2 linked regions of the Homo sapiens genome follow. The protein of the gene in region 1 purifies or fractionates together with the protein of each later gene. This does not show direct contact. Each region holds a gene or a part of one and is shown on either strand. Other genes may lie near its edges.

Evidence for each region.
Region 2: the proteins of TMEM230 (region 1) and ATP8A2 purify together in Homo sapiens (affinity purification with western blotting, with the first as the bait; one study listed by BioGRID). This does not show direct contact.

Annotation. Positions count from the first base shown.
Region 1 is NC_000020.11:5,102,745-5,106,862, forward strand, and holds part of TMEM230 (transmembrane protein 230), read right to left. Parts: intron 3,567-4,118; coding exon 3,444-3,566; intron 1-3,443.
Region 2 is NC_000013.11:25,378,474-25,381,973, reverse strand, and holds part of ATP8A2 (phospholipid-transporting ATPase IB), read right to left. Parts: intron 1-3,500. UniProt on the Homo sapiens protein: Catalytic component of a P4-ATPase flippase complex which catalyzes the hydrolysis of ATP coupled to the transport of aminophospholipids from the outer to the inner leaflet of various membranes and ensures the maintenance of asymmetric distribution of phospholipids.

The DNA of each region.
Region 1 (4,118 bases):
ATGGAGAGAATACTTCCAAACTGATTCTACTAGGCCAGTTTTACCCTGATACCAAAACTAGGCAAAGACACATCGAAAAAACAAAAATAGGCCAATATCCCTGATGAACATTGATGCAAAAATCCTCAATAAGGAGGATAATACTAGCAAACTGAATTCAACAATACATTAAAAAGATCATTCATCAGGACCAAGTGGGATTTATCCCAGAGAGGCAAGGATGGTTCAACTTATACAAACCAATCAATGTGATAAAATCGTATCAGCAGAATGAAGGACAAAAACCATATGATTATTTCAATCGATGCTAGAAAAGCATTTGATAAAATTCTACATCCACCGGGTGTGGTGGCTCACGCCTGTAATCCCAGTACTTTGGGAGGCTAGGGTGGGCCTCACACTGACCATAATTAACACACAACGGGAAACATAGTCAGAGGGGTGCAGTGGCTAAAGCCTGTAATTCCAGCACTTTGGGAGGCTGAGGCAGGAGGATTGCTTGAGCCTAGGAGTTTAAGACCAGCCTGGGCAACATAATGAGATCTCATCTCTACCAAACAAACAAAAAAATTAGCTAGGTATGGTGACTCACACCTGTAACTCCAGCTACTTGGGAAGCTGAGGTGGGAGGATCGACTGAGCCCTGAAGATTGAGGTTGCAGAGAGCTGTGATCACACCACTGTACTCCTGGACTGCTTGAGTCTAGGAGTTCGAGATCAGCCTGGGCAACACGGCAAAACCTCATCTATACAAAAAATGAAAAAAAAATTAACCAAGTGTGGTGGCACATGCCTGTGGTCCCAGTTATTTGGGAGGCTGAGGTTGCAGTGAGCCGAGATGGTGCCACTGCACTCCAGCCTGGATGACACAGTGAGATTCTGTCTCAAAAAAAAAAAAACAAACAAAAAAACCAAAAAACAAAAAAACATACACTGGGGAAAGAACCAGTCTTTTCAATAAATGGTATTAGGAAAACTGGATATCCATATGCTGAAGAATGAAACTAGACCCCTCAAATCTCTTGACATATACAAAAATCAAATGAGAATGGATTAAACACTTAAATGTAAGACCTAAAACTATGAAACTACTATAAGAAAACATGGGGGAAACTCTCCAGGATGCTGGACTGGGCAAAGATTTCTTGAGTAATGCCCCCAAAAGCACAAGCAACCAAAACAAAAACAGATAAATGAGATCACATCCGGTTAAAAAGCTTCTGTACAGCAAAGGAAGAGACAACCCACAGAATGGGAAAAAATATATGCAAAGTATCCATCTGACAAGGAATTAATAACCAGAATATATAAGGAGCTCAAACTCTGTAGGAAAAAAAATCTAATAATCCAATCAAAAATGGGCATTTCTCAAAAGAAGACATACAAATGGCAAATAGGTATATGAAAAGGTGCTTAACATCATTGATCAAAGAAATGCAAATCAAGACTACAATGAGATATCATCTCATCCTAGTTAAAATGGCTTTTTAAAAAATATAGACACAAGGTCTCGCTATGTTGCGCAGGCTGGTCTCGAACTCCTGGGCTCAAGTGATCCTCCTGCCTCGGCCTCCAAAAGTGCTGGGACTACAGGCGTGAGCCACTGCACCCAGCCAAAATGGCTTTTATCCAAAAAAAACGGCAATAACGAATGCTAGCGAGGACGTGGAGAAAAGGGAACCCTCGTACAATGTTGATGGGAATGTAAATTAGTATAGCCACTATGGAGAACAGTATGAAATAGAACTACCATATGATCCAGCAATCACAGCTAGGTATATACCCAAAAGAAAGGAAATCAGTTTATCAAAGAGGTATCTGCACTTCCATATTTATGACAGCACTATTCACAACAGCCAAGATCTGGAAGCAACCAAAGTGTTCTTCAACAGACAAGTGAATAAAGAAAATATGGTACATATATGCAATGGAGTACTATTCAGCCACTAAAAAGAATGAGATCCTGTCACTTGCAACAACATGGATGAAACTGGAGAACGTTATGTTAAGTGAAATTAAGCCAGGCACAGAAAGACACACTTTCCATGTTCTCACTCATTTGCGGGAACTAAAAATTAAAACAATTGAACTCATGGATATTGTAGAATGATGGTTACCAAAGGCTGGGAAAGGTAGGGGGGAATGGGGAAGGTTAACGGGTACAAAATATAGTTACATAGAATGAATAAGCTCTAGTATTTGATAGCACAAAGTGACTAGAGAATAATTTATTGTACATTTAAAAATATAATAACTAAGGCTGGACGTGGTAGCTCACGCCTGTAATCCCAGCACTTTAGGAGGCCCACGCGGGCAGGCCGCTTGAGGTCAGGAGTTCATGACCAGCCTGGCCAACATGGCAAAAACCCATCTCTACTAAAAATACAAAAATAAGCCAAGTGTGCTGGCTTGCCACCATAGTCCCAGCTAACTCAGGAGGCTGAGGCAGGAGAATCACTTGAACCCACGAGCCGGAGTTTGCAGTGAGCTGAGATCCTGCCACTGCACTCCAGCCTGGGTGACAGAACAAGACTCTGTCTCCAAAATATATATATATGTATGTATGTATGTATGTGTATATGTATATATATAACTAAAAATAGGCCAGGCACAGTGGTTCATGCCTGTAATCCCAACACTTTGGGAGGCCAGCCTGGGCAACATGGCGAAACCCCATCTCTACTAAAAATACCAACATTAGCCGGGTGCGGTGGCGCACGTCTGTAATTCCAGCTACTCGGGAGGCTGAGGCACAAGAATAGCATGAACCTGGGAGGCGGAGGTTGCAGTTAGCCGATATTATGCCACTGCACTCCAGCCTGACTCTGTCTCAAAATAAATAAATAAATAAAAGTATAATTGGAATGTAATACAAATGATGAATGCTTGAGGGGATGGATACCCCATTTAGCCTGATGTGATTATTATGAATGCATGGCTGTATCAAAATACCTCATGTATCCCCTAAGTATATACACCTACTATGTACCCATAAAAATTGGAAAAAAAATTGGCCAGGGGCAATGGTTCACACCTGCAATCCCAGCACTTTGGAAGGCTGAGGCAGGCAGACTGCTTGACCTCAGGAGTTAGAGATCAGCCTGGGCAACATAGTGAAACCCTGTCTCTACACAAAATAAAACAAACAAAAATAAGTAAATAAAAAATAAAATTAGCTGGGTGTGGTGGCACACACGTGTAGTCCCAGCTACTCGGGAGGCTGAGGTGAGAGGATCGCTTGAGCCCAGGGAGGTAAAGGTTGTGCCACTGCACTCTAGCTTGGATGACAGAGCAAGACCCTGTCTCAAAAAAAACAGACCACTGGGACGGACAAACACACACACACACACACACACACACACACACACACACACACGCACACTAGAGCCTTGGCTAACATTTTAAAAATCTCACAACTTATTCCCACATGCCCGTCAGCTTACCCCTTTGCTGATGTAGCCTGACAGCAGGAGGGAGCCTATAATAATGAGAAAGGCGCCAATCAAAAACAGCACAGTGGCAAGTGCGATGGCCTTATAAGGGATCTTAGGAGGGGTTTTCTTAAACTGGAAGAGAAATAGAGATGAAAAAGACAACGAAGAACATTAATGCAAATACCTGGGTTCAAACATTTAATTAATTATTTGTAATTTTTATGTTTTTGTTTGTTTGTTTTGAGATGGAGTTTCGTTCTTGTTGCCCAGGCTAGAGAGCAATGGCGTGATCTTGGCTCACTGCAACCTCTGCCTCCTGGATTCAAGTGATTCTCCTGTCTCAGCCTCCTGAGCAGCTGGGGTTACAGGTGCCCGCCACTACACCCAGCTAATTTTTTTGGTATTTTTAGTAGAGACAGGGTTTCACCTTGTTGACCTGGCTGGGCTTGAACTCCTGACCTCAGGTGATCCGCCCGCCTCGGCCTCCCAAAGTGCTGGCATTACAGGCGTGAGCCACCGCGCCCGGCCTAATTTTTATGATTTTAGAGACGGAGTCTTGCTCTATCACCCAGGCTGGAGTGCAGTGGTGCAATTACAGCTCATTGCAGCCTCGAACTCCTGGGCTCAAGCAATTCTCTTGCCTCATCCTCTCAAGTAGCTGGGACTACAAGTATACGTCACCAT
Region 2 (3,500 bases), on another chromosome or scaffold:
CATGGTGTGACGCTATGGTGCTGAATTCATAGTGTTAACACAGACATCATCACAATGTTTACACAGACGGCATCCCCACTTCCTCTGCACAACACTGCCGACATTGCCCTGTAATATCTTGTCAACATATCATCCTGCGTAGAAGAGCCTGGCGGGTGGTCTCAGAACTCTGGACTAGCTCTCCTACCCTGGGGCTCTTCAGCCACACTCTATACCCACGCGTAGAAGGCCAAGATCTCCACTGAAAAATATCACAGACTGCAGACAACACAGCTCTCATCATATGGACTCACAAATTATGAGTGAAATCAAAGTAACCACACACTGATACAAGTTATCAGACAACTAATCATCACATAGTATCATCTTGGTTGCCATCACTGTGTTTATTATCACAGTCCATAATTTCATCAATGTAGTTTAAAAGAAATGCCTAAAAACTCAAAGTCTTGAACAATTTTAAAAGTCCAGCAGCATCCCCTGGTAATAAAACCTACCTTTGTCTTCCTAGCAGGACTCAGAGCCACTCACAACCTAATGGTATTTGAACATTATCTATTCAGACTTCTTCTCTTTTGTATTTACTTCCTCCATTTTTCCAACATGCTTATTTGAGAAAGTAATATGTTATGGAGAAAATGTGCAGTAGCAGGAACACATTTTTAAATGTATTGCTTTAAAAGGTGCTCAACTCCCATCAATGACCGGTCTCTGAGAAGAAAAACATTGCTGCTGAGACGCCCACTGGTCTTCAAGAAGGTTGTTGTGTAGGACACTAAGATTTATCATGCAGTCAAAAGTGAGATTAATCATAAATCGTGAGTGTGTTGAAGATCCTCTCCATAAATACTGACTGATAATATCAGACCATACTAAAAGACGCAAGCAACCAGATTCTATTAGAGATTAGGTTCAAAGAAATATAATGGTATTTCCTAGTGCCATGACCCAGTTCATTTTCAAAATTAACTGAAGGTGGATATCTTAGAGTGTGCCCGAGGGAGATACTGACTCAAGAGGAAGATAAATAACCCTGAAAAAAATGCTGGAGGGAGGGGGCAGGGAAGAAAAACAAATTTTTTTTAATACTTGGGGAATCCAAAGACGTGGCTTTAGTTCTTTCACACTGGTACTACCCTTGGAAGACCAGACAAGTCCCTGGAACTTCACCTTTCATGACCTTGGTTTCCCTGTGTAGCAATGGGGGTGTTGACCGTCAGATAATTTTATTTCTGCAAGTCTGCAATTCCATAAATAATCAATTAAAATATTTGGACTAGATGATCTATAATTTGTTCACCAATAGAAATATAATGCAGACCACATATACAATTTTAAACTTTCTAGCAGCTGCACTAAAAAAGTACAAAGAGATACATAAAATAATTTTAATAATATATTTTATTTAATCTCACATATCCAAAATATTATTTCGATATATAATAAACAGAAAACATTATGAATGAACTGTTTTATTTTCCTTTTTCATACTAAGTCTCAGAAATCCAGTGCACATTTTGCCGTTACAGCCCAGCTCAACCATGACTCACCATTTCTTCAGCCACATGCAGCTAGTGGCCACTCTACTGCGCGGCAAAGATCTGTAAAGTCACCTTCAACTTCAATAATCTGACTCTACAAAGTATTGCCTACTCTGTACAAAGTATCTTGGGCTCTCTAAAGGACAAATATTAGACAAGCAAGCTACAAGCTCAACAATTCTACTTGCCCAAGACCAGGGAGAGCTCCTCCCTCATCTCTCATCTCCCTGGTTTCCATTTGTATGGCTTGATTGCAACCCAGCTGTTTTCCATCATGACTTGCACGTCTCTCTGATGCTGCATGGGTTCAGGCCTCATTATTTTACACCTGGAGTATTACAACAGCCCCTAACTGTGCATTTCATTTACAATCTTCACTCATCGCTGTGTTTGCATCCAGCCCAGTTTATTCTTACCCGAGAACCCTTCTCAGTTGCCTGCCCACGCTGGTGTCTTCCCTTCCAGAAAATTTGCCCAAACTCTAACACCAGAAAATCAGACAGTAGAAGAGTTCAATCGAGTTGAATAAATGTATTTCCAAGCTTCAGGAAGGGGCAACAGGAAAATGAACTTAGAGTGGACCCAGAAAGACTGTTTATTTCTATTATTCTCTCCAGCACAAATGGACAGCAGAGTAACCTGGGGACACGGCACGCTGGGGCAGGGGACGTAGCAGAAACGGCACACTATCTTACACGCTTAGCAGGGCCCGCTCCGCCGAGTCCCAGAAGACCACTTAGTTTGCTACATATACAGTAACTACTGAGGGTTAAAAACAAAAATTCTGCAGTTTTAAAACCAATGTTATGTTTCCTCAATGCATTAGAATAAAGACAACAAAAAGAAAATGGAAGAGACTTAAACAAGGATAATCATTATGTGACTAAAAATAGCTGATAAGAGGCCTGATCCCATGGTGCAGTAACCAAATATATTATCAGCCAGGCCACTGTTCTCTCCTTTGAATATGAATGAACTGCTCCCCGATATTAACATATCATGACCGTGAAAAAAGCAACTGTCTTTGAACTAAATATCTGGAATGAGATTCCAAATGTCAGTATAGAGAAGTACTCACTCACTCCATGGAGTAGTTTGCTTACCCCAGTTTCCTATATAATCAGTCTCCATAATGTGCTTAAAATATTTACAGTAATCCTGGGATCCTCGGTGCTGCATTTGGCTTACACAGTATCTCTAGAGATAGAAAAGGGAGGAGGAGCACCCAAATGCTTCCCTGCAATGTGTGAAATGTACATTGCTGATGATTTGGCAAAAGATTACACAAGACAGGAACACTTACTTCTGAATGCAAAACCTCTGAATCAAAATTAAGGAGCCTGCCTTAACATTCTCTGCAAAAGAGGAGAAAAGAAAAGAATATTTCTCCTATCTGGAGTATTTCTTCTCTCCTGCCTTTATTTAAAAAGAAAAGTATACAAATATGCATATAGAATTTTTAAATGGGAGGCAATAATAATATATTTCTCAGAGGGATGGTGTGAGGATCCGTAAGAAAAATATGCGAAAAACACTAAAGGCATATTAGTAATTACCTTTATTATCTTTGTTCTCACAGCACCAGACTCACTTCCTTTGCTCTCTTCCCAACAGCACTGCCTGCCATCAGTGGCGCAGTATCAGGTGGGCAGAGCTGCAGAGTAGCTAGGACAGCAGGGCCGGAGACAGCCAAGTGCTGTCAGTTATGCAGGCTAGTGAGGAATATGTGGAGGAGGTGCTTCACTCGCAGTTTTGGAACCCTGTAGCTATTCACCCTGTATATGGAACAGATGCTAAAAAGAAAAAAACATGTCAGCTTGGAAAGCAGAAACTCATACTAACCAACTCTGAAGTGAGAACTCCAGTGAAAGCCAAAAATAACAAAGTTCTCTTCTCTGTGACAAGAAAGGGGTATTAAAAATTCAGGCAACCTGAAACAAACCAATCAAAATGGCATAA